3 separate regions of the Homo sapiens genome follow, and regions 1 and 3 are each linked to region 2. Evidence: fine-mapped expression QTL. A gene starts in region 2. Each other region holds a variant in brackets. All regions are shown on one strand. Distances are between the middles of the regions. Region 1 overlaps TNRC6C (trinucleotide repeat containing adaptor 6C). Region 2 holds the start of TMC6 (transmembrane channel like 6). Region 3 holds the start of LACAT1 (lung adenocarcinoma-associated transcript 1).

The links.
Region 1: its variant is fine-mapped to the expression of TMC6 in whole blood (INTERVAL, PIP above 0.99).
Region 3: its variant is fine-mapped to the expression of TMC6 in left ventricle (GTEx, PIP 0.99).

The regions. Positions count from the first base shown.
Region 1 is chr17:78,066,621-78,073,663 of GRCh38, forward strand. TNRC6C (trinucleotide repeat containing adaptor 6C) reads left to right here. Exons shown (of 23, transcript NM_001142640.2): 7 at 1,137-1,303; 8 at 4,465-4,545; 9 at 6,417-6,474. It also overlaps the pseudogene UBE2V2P2 and the pseudogene RNU6-625P. Among named protein-coding and RNA genes, the nearest start is that of TMC6, 59 kb to the right of the region's middle. The variant A/T (reference allele first, on the strand shown) is at 3,873.
Region 2 is chr17:78,125,864-78,131,300 of GRCh38, forward strand. It overlaps TMC6 (transmembrane channel like 6), which reads right to left and starts at 2,892. Exons shown (of 20, transcript NM_001127198.5): 1 at 2,749-2,892; 2 at 914-1,043; 3 at 661-785; 4 at 414-503; 5 at 1-21. The coding sequence starts at 969. It overlaps TMC8 (transmembrane channel like 8), which reads left to right and starts at 4,908. Exons shown (of 16, transcript NM_152468.5): 1 at 4,908-4,988; 2 at 5,418-5,437. RefSeq lists silencers at 1,006-1,055, 1,106-1,185, 2,456-2,985 and enhancers at 1,526-1,775, 4,986-5,115.
Region 3 is chr17:77,248,077-77,255,119 of GRCh38, forward strand. It overlaps LACAT1 (lung adenocarcinoma-associated transcript 1), which reads left to right and starts at 5,738. Exons shown (of 3, transcript NR_188630.1): 1 at 5,738-6,445. RefSeq lists an enhancer at 6,050-7,043. The variant A/AT (reference allele first, on the strand shown) is at 3,534.

The DNA.
Region 1 (7,043 bases), 58 kb before region 2:
TTCATATTCTTCCAAGAAGTGAAAATTTGGGGTAATTTTGATACCGAAAATCACTTTGTATTTTAAGATAGGAGGAAAAAACAATATCTGAAGTGGAAACTCGATAGTCACTTTGTAGCTCCATCTGCCTAAGGCCTCCATCCTGCTAGTCTGTAAGCATCTCCTGCGGGCTTGTTAGAAATGCAGCCTGTCGGGCCCAACCTCAGGCCTGCCAGACTTCACATGATCCAGCTGACTGTCACGAGTGGACAGGTTTGAGAAGCTCTGGTCTGTGTGACTTAATGCTCATAGGTTTGGATCAAGCAGTGATTAAGAATCAGACAGAGATGCTCATTTCAGCAGCACATGTACTAAAATTGGAACAATACAGAGAAGATTCGCGTGGTTCCTATGCAAGGATGAGATACAGATTTATGAAGCATCCCATATACAAATTTTCCTGCCACTTGTGATGGCTCATGACTGTAATCCCAACACTTTGGGATGCCGAGGCAGGAGGACTACTTGAGCCCAAGAGTTTGAGACCAGCCTGGGCAACATAGTGAGACCCCATCTCTATTAAAAAGAAAAAAAAAATTAGCTGGATGTGGTGGCACATGCCTGTAGTCCTAGCTACTTGAGAGGCTGAGGCAGGAGGATCACTTGAGCCCAGGAGTTTGAGGTTGCAGTGAGCTGTGATTGCACTACTATAATCCGGGCAACAGAGCAAGACCCTGTTTCAAAAAAAAGAAAAAAACCTACAAATTTTAAAAACCACACAGGACAATGAAATGTTTTAGGAATCTACATTTCTGTAGCCTTTTCATACCATGTAGAGATTGCCACCTTCCCTGGTGGCCCCAGGATTTGTTCTTAGCATGTTTATGTTTCAGAATGATGTGTAGTTGGTTAAGGAAGTTTAGAACAGCACAGAGTACAAATAGCTGATGTTTGAAGGAAAAATTATATACATATACATGTTTATTTACATATGTAGCAAGAGAAATTCAATTCTGAGATCTGGGAGAAATGAAGGCATAAAAAGGTAGATTACAATGCATCATTTGTCCCACGACCCCTAAATTATATGTTACAGTGGAAGCATTGTCTGCGTTAGGGACATGAATTTGATAAGTTCATGTTTGCTCTGTTTCTAGCTTCAAAATCTATGCAAGAAGGCTGGGGCAGTGGTGGGGATGAAATGAACCTCAGTACCAGCCAGTGGGAGGATGAAGAAGGGGACGTGTGGAATAATGCTGCTTCCCAAGAAAGCACCTCCTCCTGCAGCTCCTGGGGGAACGCCCCCAAAAAAGGACTTCAAAAGGTAAGTACAACACTCTTAACGACGGTACACCCTGAAAACCAAAGGTACTTCAGACACATTCAGTATCCAGTTAATCAGACAAAAAGATAGACCTGAGGTTCTCAAAGTAGTCTTAGGACCCTTGGAGGTCCCAGAGACCCTTTCAGGGGAGTAAGCAAGGTCACAACTATTATCATGCCAGTACTAAGACTGTCTTTTTCATTTGAAGTCTCTCTCCGGTATAGGGTAGAGGTGTCCAGAGAACTTTATTGTAGCAGAGAATGTGCAGAAACAGGCATGAAAATCCAGCCATTTCTCTTAAGCCAGACATAGAGATTTGCCAAAAGGCAAAACAGTGCCACCCTTCTCATGAAAAATTAATTACTTTTTATTTTAAAATGTTAGGTTAATGTGTAGTGACTATTATTTTTAAGCAAAATTATATTTTTAAATTTTCTCAGTTTTAATTTCTAATACAGTAAATAGCAATAGACACAACTCATGTCAACAGAAGTTCTTTGGGATCTTCAGTCTCTAAGAGAGTATTATAGGGTCCTGAGACCAAAAAGTTTGAGACAGATGGTTAAGAAGTCTTAAAACAGATGGGCAGGCAGGGCACAGTGGCTCACACCTGTAATCCCGGCACTTTGGGAGGCCAAAGTGGGTGGATCACTTGAGGTCAGGAGTTCAAGTCCAGCCTGGCCAACATGGTGAAACCCCATCTCTACTAAAAATACAAAAACTAGCTGGGCGTGGTGGTGGGTGCCTGTAATCCCAGCTACTCGGGAGGCTGAGGCAAGAGAATTGCTTAAACCTGGGAGGCGGAGGTTGCAGTTGCAGTGAGCCAAGATCGCCTCACTGCACTCCAGCCTGGGCGACAGAGCGAGACTCCCTCTCAAAAAAAAAGACACAAATGTGCGGTCATCTAGAAAACACTGAGATACACATCTCATATATACATGAGCTACATGAGACGTGTATCTCATTTTTTTCTAGATGACTGCCCAATTCAGTCCACATTCAGCATGACTGAATTTCAAGTAGGTCACAAACTTAAATATTAAAAATATGAAAACATGAAAGAACATTAAAAACAATTTTGGACTCAGAGAGGCCTAACTATGACCAAAATCTAAAAGCCATAAAATAAAATTTTTTTGTGTCAATAGATAAATGTAAAAACTGTACATGACAGAAAATACCATAATCAAAGTCAAAAGAAAAATAGCAAACTGGAAAAATATGTTTATAACTCATATCATAGAGAGGGCCAATCCCCTGATACATAAAGTCCTAGAAACTGATTTAAAAAAAAAATCAGCCAGAAACCCAGTAGAAAAAGGAGCACAGAATGTGAAGAGTAGCTGGTCCACAGAGAAGGAGCACCAGTGGCTCCTAGACACGGACTCACAGGAAGGCAGTGCAGTTCCAGACAGCACTCAGAGACACCTGCCATTTTTCATCTCTCAGACCCACAGAAAGCCAGCGTTTTGATTTTTTTATTTAAAAAAATTTTTTTAGAGACAGAGTCTTGCTGTGTCACCTTAGGGGCTGGAGTACAACCTTGAACTCCTGGGCTCGAATTGTCCTCCTGCCTCAGCCTCCTGAGTAGCTGGGTCTACAGGTGCATGCCACTCTGCCCAACTAATTTTATTTTTTATTTTTTCTGTAGAGACAGAGTCTCACTTTGTGGCATTTATACAGTTTTGTATTGCAGCATTTTTGTAGTAAAAAGATAACAATAATTTATGTGTACATTGATGGAGTAACAAGTTAATTATGTCACTTCTACATTATACAGAACTAAAAGGAAATTCTATCTATGTATTGATATGAAAAGATCACTAAAGTACATTGTTAAATTAAAAGCAAGGTGCAGAAAAACATGTACAGCACACACCCTATTTTGTGGGGTAGGAGGAAGAAAACGTGTGTGTGTGTATGTGAGTGTGTGTATGCATGCATGCACACGTAGTGTATCAGCTTCTACAGAATGTTCTAAATTCTCTGGAAGGGCAAATAAGAAACTGCTATGAGTAGTGCCTCTTCGAGAGAACAGGAACTAAGCAAATGGGGTGGCATGAGATGAAAACTTTCTTTATACCTTGTTTATACTTTTGAATCGTGTGAATGTATTCATGTTCAAAAAAATATAGTTTATAAAAGCATTCAGTTAATAATCAGCAGAAACCAGAAACTAAAATCAGAGCTCTCCGCTCATGAGGAGTAGAAGTGATTACAGACATCAAAAAGAATCCTTTTTACAGTTGGGCTGGCAAATAATCCAGTTAATGATGGGACCAAAAATAGCAAATTGGTAAATTAAAATCTTGACTAATCTGGCTCTGGCAGCATAGTAATGATTGAAATAGCCCCAAAATAAGCTAGTTCCTTGAGGAAAGAAAGCCTGTTTATAGAGCTCCATATGCTCCATGATATAGCTGTGGCAGGCTCAATTGTGAAAAACACTATGAAGAATATTTTTGGAAGGGAATTTTTTTCATATTGTAATAATGCATCATTAGAACCTTTGCATTTATAGGCTCAGAGGGAAGTTATTGAGAAGCCTCCTGGCTCTTCTGTGGTGCCG[A/T]GCCCTCCCCCACCCCCACTGCTCTTTCTGTAGCTGACCTTTTTCCTCATCCTCTCCTTCACTGACATTTTCCTCCTTATTCCTTTTCTCTACCCTATGAGCTATAAGTAACAAATAGTTAATAAAATTAACAGGTTGTTTCATCCTTTCTTCTTGCTGCCTCTTTACTCATTGGAATAAACCCCCTCATTTTATCATTTTTCAGAATAAAGCTTAGAAAAGGCAAAAAGTGTAATTTTTAGTAAACTTCACATAGGGCTGTGTTCAAGGGAGCGCTTAGGATTATTGGATAGTAAAAGTAGTCTATATTTGTGATAAACTAAATTAATTATCTGGGAAAGAGAAATAATTATCTTGCTTTAAGTTCATAAATTGCACATATATACCAACCTGCAAATGTACCTTGATGCTTTCCGTAGCAGTAGCCACGAAATACTGTTAGGGAGTTTCTGGAATACAGCATTATTCAATGTTAATACAAAAAGATCCTGTGACTTTTAAATGACCCTGAATTTAGGCTGTCTCCCATTTCTGGTAGAAATGCATTAAAATGTAGCTCATGGACTTCCCCCTTTCCCACACTTTGTTCAAGGGCATGAAGACGTCTGGCAAGCAGGATGAGGCCTGGATCATGAGCCGGCTGATCAAACAACTCACAGACATGGGCTTCCCGGTAACTGGCGTCGTAGTTTACTGCTACCCACCATGCTTCCCAAAATGAAATGCCCTCATTGTTTCCTCTCCATGTTTGTTATGTGTGTCAGAAGACACCAAGATTGTTTGAGGAATGAGATATTGACATCATCTAACTCTTAAATCTCCCTTTTACCTGGGTAGTTTGGGTTAGAGATCATTGCTTTGAACTACAGCAAAGACCCACACAATTTCTATCAAAAAGGGTGTGAGAGCCTTTTCCTAGAATAGAAAATGCTTTTTTTTTTTGGAGACAGGGTCTTGCTCTGGCACCTAGGCTGCAGTGCAGTGGTGTGATCAAGCAGTCCTCCTGTCTCGGCCTCCCGAGTAGAGCTGGGACTACAGGCGTGAGCCACCATGCTCGGCTAATTTTTGTATTTTTGGTAGAGACGAGGCTTCACTGTGTTGGCCAGGCTGGTCTCGAACACCTGGGCTCAAGCGATCTGCCCGCCTCGGCCTCCCAAAGTGCTGGGATTACAGGCATGAGTCACTACGCCCAGCCGGAAAATGCTGTGTGATTTTTAATTTTCATTGGTTTATACAGTTTTATGTTTACTTTTAATTTATAATTAAACGTGAATTTCATTAGTGTATAGAGTATATTGACAGAGATCACAAAAGAAAACTTGATGTAAAGTACTAAGGTTTCATATCCAGAAAAAGTATCCTAACCAGACCTACTTAGTTCCTAAGTTTCCAGTCATACGTAGGGAGAATTCATAATTGTAGGGCGTTCCCCTGAAAATACCACAGTCTGTTCAATTCCTGAGATTGGATGGCAGTTCAGATGGCAAGGGATGTCGCCCATATTCGCCATGTATTCGCTTCATGGGACTTCTTTCAAAATCCTTATTCAAATTAGTGTTTATCTTTCAGTTACCGTAGATGCTTCTAAAAGAATGAGTCCAGAATGGCCTCCATGTAGCGGAGGAACCCCATCCTTCACACTGGGCACAGGCCCTCTGTATTGGGCAGGGCATTGTGTTGGTGGCCCAGGCTCTGCCTGTGTGAGTGGGCAAGAGGTTGACGGTGGCTTCAGCGTGTCCTGATTTATACTGTCTCAGTTATCATGGCACCCTAGCGGCTTCAGTCATCCCCTGAGATTACTGTGTTCCAGTCATAAATTATCAAAATGAATCTACTTGTTTTGTTTTTCTGTTTCTTAGAGAAAAGTTGTTGATGGTGGAGCCTAGAGTTGATGAAGCGAAAAATGCAGCTCTGCACTCCGACAGTGACTGACATAGTTGCTGGGACTAGAGAGAGACATGGAGATGGGCCTCACTGGGACAGGAATCCTGTCCTAGGAGAGCATCCTGTCCTCATGGCAGGTGTCCTTGTCTGTGGCCCTGCTGTCTTGGCATAGATTGCACCTTTATGGAATCATTGCTACTCAGTGTTGTACAGAATGATTTTAGGACCAGACACAGTGGCTCACACCTGTAATCCCAACACTTTGGGAGCCCAAGGCAGGAGAACCACTTGAGCCCAGGAGTTTGAGACCAGCCAGGGCAACATGGAGAGAACATATCTCTACAAAAATAATACTAATAGTTACATTTTAAAAAAATGAAAATGATTTTAGGAGTACTTACAAGGTTTTACTGCCACTCTGCATTTTGTTTCCAAAGTGTTAAATACAAGGGCTTTACTTTGAAAATCAAGTCAGTACATTTTCTTATTACAAGTATTTTTAATTCAAAAGACATTGTCTCTAACCTCAACAGTGAAGAAATGTATTTCCAGTTCCAAAACCTAATAACTATGTCTTTAAGTTGATAGTGATTAAATTGTTTGTAACCTTTCCTTTTGTTAATTAATGTGCACTAATGAAAACTCTGTTTTCCTACACAGAGAGAGCCAGCTGAGGAGGCCTTGAAGAGTAACAATATGAATCTTGATCAGGCCATGAGTAAGTCATACAACATCCTTTTTAAAAAGGTACCCAGCTGTGAAGTTTTACTTTCCAGAAGCATTTGATTGTAGTCATGGTTTAATGGTTAATATGTCCTGGGTAGACAGGACCAGGCCACAGTGAAGGGGCAACCACACAACAAGCTGGAACCACAGAGGGAGCCTCTTGGGATTAGCGGACTTTGGAGGTGAATCGCCAATGCCATATTTGAAGCATGTTGGCTTTTCTCATATTTTCCCGTTATGTTTTGAGGGAAGGTAATAATGACACTCTGAGAGACACTGGAACCACACACTAGACTTCAGTGGACACTGAGTGCGTTCCTCGTGCCTTGCCCCAGAACGGACTTGCCTAGGGGCCACCAGAAGCGTTGCCTTGCTGGCTGAGCACCAACTGTTGTTGAGAGAGAAGATTTTCTGTCAAGGAACAAGCAACCCTAGTTCTAGAGCTGCTTTAATAATAATGTTAAATATTTACATTTAAATATAGTCGATTCTTATTTTCTTGGTAGTTATGTTCTATAAAGTCACCACAAACACTGAATTAACGAATACCGAACCAGTGCT
Region 2 (5,437 bases):
TGATGGCACCTCGGCTGCGGCCTATGGAGGCAGCTGGGCAGGGCCGGGCCGGGCAGGGCCAGGCCTCCCTCCCCTCAGGATGGGCTCACCACAGGCCTCTGCGTCCCTCACCCCTTCCCAGGACCCAGGAAAATCCTTTCAACAAAGACTTCAGGCACCACTGCATTCCGAAAGCCTATTTTTACCCCGTGATGACTCTGGAGTCATTTTTGGAGCCCAGCGAGGGCCACATGGGGCTGTGCTGGGCCCCCAGGCAGCAGATGGGATGGGCTAGGAGCCCGCCCTGGGCCTGGCTCTGAGCTACGGGAGCAGCCACTACCCAGGGAGATGCCTGGCAGGAAGCCCAGCCCAGCCCCAGGGACTGGGGTCAACTCGGGGCCGGGGCCGAGGCCGAGGCTGAGGGTCCCACTCACCAATGGTGCGGCTGGGCATGCTGGCCAGGATGCGGAGTGTGGCCGTGCTCTGGGTGCCCTCGGGCCGCCAGAGTGTCTGCTGGCTACTTCCTACAAAGCAAGAAAGACTCACCAGGGGTCCTGGAGATGCCATTGGCCACAGTATCTCCCACCCCATCCCAGGCCTGCAGAGCTGGGAGGCCCGTCCTGAGGGGCTGGGGCACCCAAGTCTTGGTCCACACCACCCAGCATCCAGGCCTGAGCTCACCTGTCACCTCCCGCTCTCTCTGCTGCAGCTCCAGCCCCTCCTGGGCCGTGCACTGGCTCTGCTCCTGGATGAGCTGCTGGAAGGAGTCGTGCACTTCGCTTTCATCATAGGGGCTGGGGCCCTGGCTGCAGAGGGGGTTGGCGGGGGGGTCAGGCTCCAGCCACCTCTCTCCTTCCAGCAGCCCCTGCTCAGGTGACCTCTCCGTGGGGGGTGGAACATTCCAGCCTCCAGCCCCCAGCCCCAGAGCGCTTACCCCTGGTCCCCTGGGGTCTCAGGGACATCGAGGATGAAGGCCAGTGGCTGGGCCATGTCTCTGGCCAATGCCCGCTAGTCTGCAGACCTAGGGTAGCTCAGAGCCTGGGCGCCACCTCCGGAGCCCCCATCTGATGAGACAGGGGCACAGAGCCAGGGGTGGTCTTCAACGCCTGGCAGCTGTCCACACCACCCATTCCTGGGGGAACCACAGGAGGTGCCACTCACAGCCCAGACAGTCCCGCCCACCCCCCTATCACCCCAGGTACATAAATGGTGAGGCACCGAATAAGCCTCATGCCAGAATGGAATGGGGGGCCCCCTCCAGTGTCAGGGGAGGGGAGAGAGGAAGGAAGGGTGTGGGGTCTGCAGTTCCACATCTGTTTCCTCGATGTCGCCAGTCCCTGGGAAATGGGGAAGAGGTAGGGTGCCTGTAGACACAGCCCCTTTCAGGATCTCCATGCCCAGGGTTCTGGCACAGAGACACCTCCTTTTTGGAGAGAAAGGTCAGAGTAGGCTGTAGGCCTTCTCTGCGTCTGCCCTGTGACCTCAAAGAACTTCCTCTAGCAGGAAATTAGCTGCTGGAGCCCTCACCCCCAACCAGCCCCAGGCGGAAGCAGCACAGGGGGCTCCTCCCCCACACACAGAGGTCACTCCATGCCACCGCCGTCAGGGCGCCAAGGTCCTCATGTTCTCAGAAGACCCACTGCCCTGCATTCCATCATCCCAGGGCGGCCGGCTGGGGGTGGCCAGGACCTCAACAGGCCTCCTTTGTCCTGGCTCTGCCGTCACCCGGCACAACTGGAACCAGAGCAGCCTTGTCTGGGGCCCTGGGCTCGGGGCCCGTTCATCTGTGAGAGTGGAGCCAGGACTCAGCTCCCAGCCACCAGCGAGTCCTGCCGGCCTCTGCCCTGGACTCCTCCTGCGCTCACCCTCAGGAACTCAGGGCTCAAAGTCGGCCGGGTTGAAGGGCGCTTTCCTCGGACAGGCAAAGCCCGGGGGCGCCCCGACAGAGCAGCTCCTTGCAGGGGTGCCAGTCACAGGACCGGACGGCGCCCTCCCTCAGTGTCCTGGGTGCCATCTTCGGGCCCAGGCCCCACACCACCCCCTCCCTCCAGCAGGAGCAAAGACGTGGGAAAACCAGCCCAGAGCTGGGTCCGAGGCGGCCCCACCCAGCCTAACACGGGACAGCTGCCGAAAGAGGGGCTGAGGACGCCCCACCCAGTCCCTAGAGCTGGAATCCCTTCCTCCAGACAGGCCCTTCTAAGCTCAGGGAACCCGGGGACTCGGGCACCCAGCGCCCCAGCACTCCGCCCCGAGGCCCAGGCAAGTCCAGCGGAGTTTCCAGGCGCACCATTCCTGAGCTAGGTGGGGAGAGGCTGGGTGGCGCCCGTTTCCAGGAACCCCCACCCCAGCCGGCAGCGAGCTTCCCGGGAGCAGCCGCTACCCAGGGAGAACCGCAACCTGGCCCCAGAGCCCAGAGCGGCTGCAACTCTGGGGCCACCGAACCCGTCCAGCCGGCCTCCCTGTCCCCCGCCCCTTCCCATCCCGGCCACACCCCCTCCCCTCCCCTCCCCGTGCCCTGGCGCTCGGCTGGGGGACCTGGGTGGGGGCTGCGGATTTTGCTCCCCGCACTGTCCTCCCCGCCCCTGCCGCTCCCAGCTCTGTCCGAGCCGGAGGGTCAAGCCCTGGGAGCTCCAGGAGCACCCGGGGAGGGAACTCGGCTGCCAAATGGCCCCAGAGGCCGAAAGGAATTCAGGGGGGATTGCCGCTGTCCCCGCATAGGAGAAGCAGCTGGGGCTGGCGGGACCCGGGACCGGGATCGCGGCCGCTCACCTGGGAGGCGCCGGGGAGGAGGGGCCGCGCGCGCAGCCAGGGCTCACCTGTGCCCCGCAAGAGCCGCCGGGAACTGAGGTCTCGGCTCTCCTTGCCAAGGGAGTGGCAAAGGGCCCCAGGGGCGACTGGGCCAGTCGCAGGTCTGCCGGGGCCGGGGGAGTAGCCGCACCTCCCGGCCCACGTGGGCGGGGGGGGGGGGGGCGGGCCTCGGCTATCACGTGACCCGGCCCGGCCCGCGGCGCCCCCGCCCTCCTCCGGGCGCCCCGCGGCGACTATGCCTTCCTCCCCTGCCAACTTCCGACCCCTCCTCCTGAGGTCTGAGCTGGGCTGGATTCATTCCAGCCCCTGGTTGAAGTCCCCAATTTTTCTGACGCTCAGTTTCCCCAAGTTCCAAAAAGGGGCAATATTTCCAGACTCATCTGCTTCCCATGGTTAGGGATCGTCCAAGTAAGATGCCGCCGAAAGCCCCAGGGACACAGAGTATCTCACTCCAGATTGGGCAGCGCCCCCCCCCCCGCCGCCCCCGCAAGCCTCCTGCTGACTCTCCCCGACCCCGGCGGGGGGAGCCTGGTTATCTCCCACTCCTGACACCTGGGCGGGGTTCATTGTTTATCTAGCAAGAGTTCTGGCTCACTTCCTGTGTGCTGTGTGGAGAGGAGGGGATGAAAAGGAGGACACGCTGACACTTAGGTGACTGTCCCCAGGTGCTGTACCCGTTGCCCTGTTTTCTGTTATTCCCCATGAGCCAGGAAGGTATGCACTGATATTCCCATTTCACAGATGAGGAAACTGAGGCTGAGAGAAGTTAATCACCCTTTAGGGTGCCCCCAGCCAAAGCAGGAGACTTAGTGGTCCACCTGGGAACTCTATGGAGGAAACTGCCTTTGAGATTGTACCCCCCACCCCAAGCCCATTTGGAAGGGAGGGTCATTCCTGGCGGGGAGAAGCCATGAAGCAGGCAGGGTGAATGTGAGCTGGGGCCCAGGAGGGCAGGAGAGGGCACTGCTGCAGGGGAGAGCAGGCAAGCAAAAGCGAGGACCAGGCAGGGGTCAAGGCTGGGGCCTTTTGGAGCTGCCAGTGTGGTCCTCAGATGGCTACCCCAAGCTGGTTCTTGGCAAGTGGCACCCTGGCATGGAGACCCAGCCCCTGCCTCTCCTCCCACTGCTTCCCCCTCCCTGCATACCCACACTGAATTTGCATGAATGCCACCTCCTCTGGGGAGCCTCCCCAGATTGAACCCTGGTGGAGCACCTACCACTTCCTATTGACATGTACATCTGTGGTTCTGTGCCCCCTCCTACCCCAGCCCACTGTGTGCCCAGCACCAGCACATAGCTTGCGCCTGACACACAGAAAGGACTCTGGAAACCAGGAAGGAGGTGGGCAGAGAGGCAGAAAAGCTATGAACATTCAGACCTGAGATGACTGGGCCCTATAGCAGGTAGAGAGGGAGCAGAGAGGAAGGGCTGCGGGCTTCCCAGGGGCCCAAGGACAGAGAATTGGCAAAGATATGTCTTAAACATCTAGCCTGGGAGAGCATGAATGGAGCCAATTCCTGAGCACTTACTACCGGCCAGGTGCTAGGCCTGGGTCTTGGCACAACCATAACGCCAATGACAGGGGCTGGAAGTACAGCAGTAACACCAAGAGTATCTGGAAACCCAGCAGCCAGGTTCTGGGGAGCCCACCATCCTGTCATTATCACACCCTCCAGGGTGAGGCCGGCAGATAAAGAGTTTGGCCCCTGTGCCCCCACCGTTCCCATCCCCACCCATGTCAGGCTCCCAGCTCAGGCCTCGAGGTCAAGTCCTGCCTATCCAGGCTGGAAGGAGTTGAACAGAGAGGGCCTCAGCTGCAGGCTGGACATCCCTGGAGGCAGCCAGGCGGCAGACCCGGACCAGTGGACCCTAGGGCTGCAGGAGACCAGGCCCTGACTCCTGTGCAGAGGGGAAGGGTGGGCCACCCGCAGCCCAGCATGCACAGAGCTCCCTGGGAGGCCAAGTGGCCTACGCCTGTCACCTTCACCTCTGCATCTCAGGGGCCCACAGGAAGTGCCTGCTTGGCCTCAGTTTAAAGCAGAGGAAACCATGGGGTGAGAGGGGAGGAGGGAGGTAGTGGAGAGGGAAGCTGGGTTTCCTGTCATATGACCCCTCCTCTGGGCTCCCTCACCACCCTGCCTGGCTTGGCAGGAGTCGTCTGAGAAGGGGACTCCTCCAGGGACTTGGTCCCTAGGTCCCCAGGTGAGCTGGATGTCCAGTGGAGGGAGAATGCAGAGGGTGAGGGGCTGTGGGGGCCAGCTAGAGCCCTGCAAGGGTAGCAGTGGGTCCCTGCTCCTGTCCCCACGGCTGGGGCTGTAGCCACAGGTCCTCATCAGGGGCTCGCGGGGTACCTGGGACTGGAGGCTGGACCACAAGAAGGAAGACAGAAGGGGGTCCCCCGACATCCAGAGTCAGATGTGGCAGATGCCGAGTCCCAGGAACTGTGGGGTTTGGGACACAGGCTCTTCCGGAAGGGCAAACTGCCACGTGGAGAAGAGAGGGAATTGTCTCTCCTTGGGGTGACGGTGGGCCCAGGCACAGGTGGATGCGGGGTGCAGCAGGTCTTGGCTTTCTTTGCCTGTGCCGGTCCAGACTTTCTGTGCCCTTTGGATCTTTCACCCCATTTGACAGATGGGGAGACTGAGGCCGTG
Region 3 (7,043 bases), 880 kb before region 2:
TGCCCCTCCAAGGAAGATGCTGAGCTGGACCTGGAGCACCGTGGAGGCAGGACCATGTCTGCCATGCTCAGAGATGGGTGCCAGGGGCGCTGGCTTGTCACTCAAGACTCCCCACTCCATCTGCCCTCCCCCACTCTCCCACTAACCAGGGGGGACCCACCTGCACCTCTGGTCACCACTCATGCTCCCTGGTGCTGGGCACCCCAGGGACAGGAAGAGGGCTGGGTGTTCCTGGCTCCTGCACTGCTTCCCAGGCCTGATCCCCATCTTTCTGCACCTGCCTCCCACCCATCAGCTTCCGCTAGACTGGAAGCCTCCAGAGGGCAGGTGCTGCCCCTCTTTCCCTTGTGCCTGGATTCCGTTGGCATCTAATCACAGACGAGGGACTGTGTCCCCTTCTCCACCTCCGTGGAAACTGTGTCTCACTCTCTATTCCAGGCCGAGCTGTCCATCCTCTGCTGGAAGCCTTGTGCCATCAGCCCTCACCTCCCCCTTCAAGCCTAGACATTCTCTCTCCTGGCGTAAATATGTTAACTCAAGGTTCTTTGCTCTAAAACCAAGGAGTTGTCTCCTCTCCCAGGTCCACCTCCTCTCTCTCGTGAACTCCCTGCCCCTCCACCTCATCCCTCCTCCATGACCTCCCCCTACTCACCATCTGCCCCTTCTGCCAACCCAGCGAGCTGCAGCTCTCCCTGGCATGTCACTCTCTAAACCTTCTGTCCCTTGGTTACGAGTGCAGTTCTCGCCTGGATTTCTTCCCGGCTCTTTGACTTCTCCCCAACCCTTCTTTTTCTGTTTTCCCCTTAAATGTGGACATCCCCACGTCCAGGACCTGGTCTCTGGCCCTTCTCCTCTGATTCATCTCAGTGGCGTTTCTCCCAAATCCCCGATTGCAGCCACAGCCACATGTCAATTAGGTCACCTCCATGTCCCGGCTAAGACGTGCCTCCTGGCCCCTGATGCGCCATCTCCCAGATGGAAATGCCATCATTGTATTTTTGCTCTGTCCCCACCAAAGGCAACACAAAGCATCTCCATCTGTTCCTTCATGTTCCCTACTCAGTGAATGACCGCTTATTTACCCACTGGCCCAGGCTCAGCTTGGATGTCCCCGGGCCGTCGTTTCCAGATCTCATCTTCAAATCCTGGCGATCTTCGCCCAGGAGCTGTGGACTCCTCTTCTCTGCCTGCCGCCCCTGCCCTGTCCAGCGTCCACCTCTCCCAAATGGCCCACTGGGTCCCTCCCTCCTGGCCCCCCTGCATCTAGGAGCAGCCCTCCTCCAACAGTTGGAAGGGTCTTCCCAAAACACAGATGAGACCTTGTCATCTTGAAACTCTTCATTGGCTCTGAATTGTCTTAGGATCAAGCCCAAACTCCTTCAGAGTCTGGGAAGGGGCCCCTCGTTCTGGGTCTGGCTCTGTCTCCCAGGGTCTCCCCCGCCTTGCCTGCTCTGTCTGGCCACACTGACAGTGCCCTGATGGGCCATGTCCTCTTCCCCTCAGCGCCTTTGCGTGTCCCAGCTTTCTGAGCCCAGACAGCCCTCTCCCCATTTTGGGGGGCCCACCTCACCTATCAGGGTGCAGCTTCTCCTCTGAGAAGACTTCTTTGCTCCCCAAGCCTGGATTTGATGCCATCTGCCTGTATTGACCTGGCTAAGCCAACACCCTAGCCCTAGGCTACCCTCAACCAACACCCCTGACCACACTGTGTGTGAATTACACCCCTGACCACACTGTGTGTGAATTACACCCCTGACCACACTGTGTGTGAATTACACCCCTGACCACACTGTGTATGAATTACACCCCTGACCACACTGTGTGTGAATTACACCCCTGACCACACTGTGTGTGAATTCCTCCTTTCCTTGTTTCTGTGCCCATTCAAGCTGTAAGCCCCTTTGGAAGAGACTGGGCCTTCACAATTATCATCTCAGCACCAAGCACAGAACCCACCTCAATAAATGGTTAATTTGAGACTTCTGTCTCTCTCTTTTTTTTTTTTTTTGAGACAGAGTTTCGCTCTTATCCCGCAGGCTGGAGTGCAATGGTACGGATCTCGGCTCACTGCAACCTCTGCCTCCCAGGTTCAAGCGATTCTTCTGCCTCAGCCCCCCAAGTAGCTGGGATTACAGGCATGCACCACCACGCCTGCCTAATTTTTTTTTTCTTTTTTGAGATGGACCTGACTCTGTCACCCAGGCTGGAGTGCAGCGGCGCAATCCTGGCTCACTGCAACCTCCACCTCCCGGGTTCAAGTGATTCTCCTGCCTCAGCCTCCCAAGTAGCTGGGATTACAGGCGCCCGCCACCACACCCAGCTAATTTTTGTATTTTTAGTAGAGATGGGGTTTCACCATGTTGGTCAGGCTGGTCTCAAACTCCTGACCTCACGTGATCCACCCGCCTCAGCCTTCCAAAGTGCTGGAATTACAGGCGTGAGCCACCACGCCCAGACGAGACTGCTCTCTTTTAATTTATATTTATTTATTTATTATTTTTAGAGTCAGGGCCTCACCACATTGCTCCGGCTGGAGTATGGTGGCTACTTACAGGTGCCAGCACAGCATACGGCAACCTCAAATGACTGGTCTCAAGCGATCCTACTGCCTCAGCCTCTCAAGTAGCTGAAACTAGAGATATCTTTATTCTTAATGTAAGTATTTAGTGCTATAAGTATCCCTCTCGGCTGGGCACAGTGGTTCACACAGGTAATCCCAGTACTTTAGGAGGCTGAAGCGGGAAGATCACTTGAGGCCAGGAGTTCAAGACTGAGCAACCTCAAAACCCTGTTTCTAGCAAAAAAAGAAAAAAAGCAAGCTAGGTGTGGGGGGCATGTTCCTGTAGTCCCAGTTCATCAGGAGGCTGAGGTGGGAGGATTGCTTGAGCCTGAGGAGTCGAGGCTGCAGTGGGCTGTGATCACACCACTACACTCCAGCCTGGGCAACAGAGCAAGACTCTGTCTCAAAAAAATAATAAAAAATAAAAATAAGAAAATTTCTTTCTCAGCATTGCCTCAGATGCATCCCACATATTTTGGTATGCTGTCCTTTAATTCTCATTCAGTTTTATAGATTTCTTAATTTTCTTTGAGACTTCCTCATTGACGTGGATATTTAGAGGTGTACTGTTCAATTTCCAAGTGTTTAGAGATTTTCCTGTAGTCTTTCTGTTACTGATTTTTTTTTTTTTTTTTTGAAACAGAGTCTCACTCTGTCACCCAGGCTGAAGTGCAGTGGCACCATCACAGCTCAACCCCACCCCCCATCAGCAGTCTTGGCCCCACAATCCCTAGGCTCAAGCAATTCTCGTGCTTCAGCCTCCCAAGTAGTTGGGACTACAGGCATGTGCCACCACACCCGGCTATTTTTTGTAACTTTAGTAGAGTCGGGGTTTCACCATGTTGGCCAGGCTGGTCTCAAACTCCTGACCTCAAGTCATCCACATCACTTCTGGCCTCCGTAGTTTCAGATGAGATAATTTGAACTGGTGTCCCTATAGGTAATGTGTTGTTTCTCTGGCTGTTCTGAGGAG[A/AT]TTTTTTGTCTTTAGTTTTCAGAAGTTTAATGATGATATCTCAGTGTAGATTTCTTTGGCTTCTTCTGTTTGAAGTTCAGTTTCCTGAATCTGTAAGCTTATGTCTTTTACCAGATTTGGAAAGTTTTCAGCCATTATTTCTTCAAATACTCCTTCAGCCTCACTCTCTTCTCCTCCTTAGCCCCTATGATGTGAGTGTCAGATTTGTTTGTTATGGTCCCATTGGATGTGGACGTTCTGTTTATTTCTTATCCGTCTATTTTCTCCCTGTGGTTCAGACTGGGTACTTTGGATTGATCTGTCCCCAGATTCACTGATTCTGTCGTCTGTCATTTCCACTCTACAACTGAGCCCATCAGGGAGTTTTTAAAATTTCTGCAATGACATTTTTCAGTTCTGTAATTTCCATTTGGTTCTTTCTAAATACCCACTATTTCTTTGCTGAGAATTTCTATATTTTCATTTGTTTCAAGAGAATTTGCAATTGCTTGTTGAATTTTTTATTTTTATGTGTTTTTTTTGATGGTTGCTTTAAAATCCTGGTCACATGGCTGGGCGCAGTGGCTCATGCCTGTAATTCCAGCACTTTGGGAGGCCGAGGAGGGTGGATCACTTGAGGTCAGCAGTTCGAGGCCAGCCTGGCTAACATAGTGAAAGCCTGTCTTTATTAAAAATACAAAAATTAGCCGGGTATGATGGCACATGCCTGTAATCCCAGCTACTCAGGAGGCTGAGGCAGGAGAATCGCTTGAACTCAGGAAGCAGAGGTTGCAGTGAGCTGAGATCGCACCACTGCACTCCAGCCTGTGTGACAGAGTAAGACTGTCTCCAAAAAAAAAAAAAAAAGAGTAAAATCCTGGGCACGTAACTCCAACGTCTGATTCATCTCAGGGTTCAGTTGACGGTCTTCCCACTCACATTGTGATTTTCGTAGTTCTTGGTGGGATGAGTGAATTTCACCATATCCTGGACATTGTGGCTATTAGGTGAGGAGACTTCAGGTCCTGTTTGCATTTTTTACTTTGGTAGCAGCGGCCCTGCTTAGGTTTAGCACCCAGGTCTTGGGCTACTTTTGGGGGCTGTGGTTCCAATGAAAATCTGATTTGCAGAGCCTCTGCCGTGCTATAGAGGTCAGCTCGGCTTGTGTGGTGCTGCTTAAGGAGGCAGAAGGAGCTTTCCCAGGCTGGACATTCATTGCCTCCAGGTGGGAGAAGGGAGTCTCCCGCTCACAGGGACAGACAGGCCTTCTGCTTGTGGTGGGCTTTCTCCCTGCCATCAACGTCTCCCCCTCTCTCTGCTGTGCCATGATTTTGGGTGGGGGAGTGGAATTTCAGGTCCAGTGAGGAGGAAAGGGTTAACCCTGGCCAATAATTAGCAGGAGGGTGCTGGGCCAACCCCTTTGGTGGTTCTGCCTGGCTTGCTTGGTGGGTTTTTTGTTGTTCATTTTTTTTTTTTTTTTTTTGAGTTTGTCGCCCAGCCTGGAGTGCAATGGCGCAACCTTGGCTCATTGCAACCTCTGCCTCCCAGGTTCAAGCGATTCTCCTGCCTCAGCCTCCTGAGTAGCTGGGACCACAGGCACCCACCACCACGCCCGGCTAATTTTTGTATTTTTAGTAGAGGCGGGGTTTCACCATGTTGGCCAGGCTGGTCTCAAACTCCTGACTTCGGGTGATCCACCCGCCTCAGCCTCCCAAAGTGCTGGGATCACAGGTGTGAGCCACTGTGCCCAGCTTTTTTTTTTTTTTTTTTTACAGGTCTTACTCTGTTGCCCACGCTGGAGTACAGTGGTGCGATCATAACTCACTGCAGCCTTGATCTCCTGGGCTCAAGTGATCCTCCCACCTCAGCCTCCTGAGTAGCTGGGACTGTACGCAGCTGCCACTATGCCCGGCTAATTTTTAAGTTTTCTTTGTAGAGACAGGGTCTGCTGGGTTACCCAGGCTGGTATCAAATCCCTGGTCTCAAGAGATCCTCCTGTCTTGAAGCGCTGGGATTACAGCTGTGAGCAATCGGGCCCAGCCTTGCCTAGTGTGTTGGGGCGACTTGCCTTTAATCTAGGAGAGAAAGGAGCCTACTTGGCTGCCTTCTGTTGCTAGGTCGGGAGTTGGGAAATGCACGCCTGGGCGGGTCCTGTATTGGGTGGGGGTGAGGGGTGTCATAATGCCCTGTTGATAAATATTCCTGACCCAGCCTTGGGGTCCTTTACCAGCTCTCCTGCTCCTTCCACCTCAGGGCCCTCTTAGGGTTGCCTCTTACATTCTTTCCAGGGCTTAGCAGACAGGAACAGGGAGGGTCGGGTTTAGGCCATCTTACCCAGACCGGAAGTCTCTAAGTGTTTGATTGAGTGTTTGTTTGAAGAAAGTGATGAACCCAGGACCTCGAGCCAGGAAGATTTTTCCCGGTGAAAAGCAGAGGGATTGACTCACGCTCGGTTCTGAGTTCCAGGCCTGACTCCAGGGCTCACCAGCTTCTTCCACAACCCGCACAACTTGAACGCTTGGTAGCATCTCCACGCAGCAGTGGGCACCCTGGCTTCTGGAGGAGCCCAGGCTGCATTTACCCCTCCATGGTGCATCTCATAGGATCAACTGGACCCGCGAAAGGCACTGGCTGCGGAAAAGCAGCCAACTGCTCCCCAGCGAAGGGGATGGCCGGAAGCGAGGAGAGGGAGAAGCCCCAGCAGAGACCCCAGGAGGAAAAGACCCCACAACGGGGCCACTGGGAACCCATGATGTTGGTTACCAATGTGATTGGAGGTTCGGAACGACGGACGTGTGGCCCTGAAGTGGGAAACAGAAAAGCTGAAGGGCGAGACCTGGGAGGGAGCCCCCCACCCCCGCGGACTCCAGAGACCCAACCTTCCTTCCCTGCGCTCCGGCCGGACGTTCTCCCTGCCCCTGTGGCCGAGCCTGGTAAGTTCGCAGCAAACAGGAGTTTGGGGCTTTACAAGCCTCCAGAGGGGTCCATGGGCATTTGGGTAGATTGTTATACTGCCCCTGGCAGGAGGGCAAGGCCCTTCATGGGAGCCATAAGCTGGAGACCTAACAGAGCTCGCAGCTCGGCCACAGGGCTCTGTTCCAGGGGCATTGGCCACTGGCTTCCAGTACCTGTTCAGCCTCCCAGCTCCTTGTTGCCTGGAATCTCCACCACTGATCAGCGTGTAAACACCTATGTGGGGGACACGGGGGCAGGGGGGTCCAGGAAGGCAACTTTTGGGGGATAGGGTGGGAAGAAAGAGGGACCTCAGAGGCCAGTTCTTCCCCATCCTACTCTATTTCCTCCTGTAACCATGGGAAATGTCTTTCTGTGCCCGATCCTGTATGGGGTGCGGATGGGGCACACAGATGAATCAGACCCGGCCCCCTCTTTGTGCCAATTCATAAGCACTTCATCCACGGCTCAGCCCTGTGAAAGAGCTCCTCGGGCCCAGGAATGCAATACAGTGAGAACACTTTCCGGTCTTGCCTCCAGGTGACGATTCAGCACACAGGAAGGTGGCCCTGCCCAGGG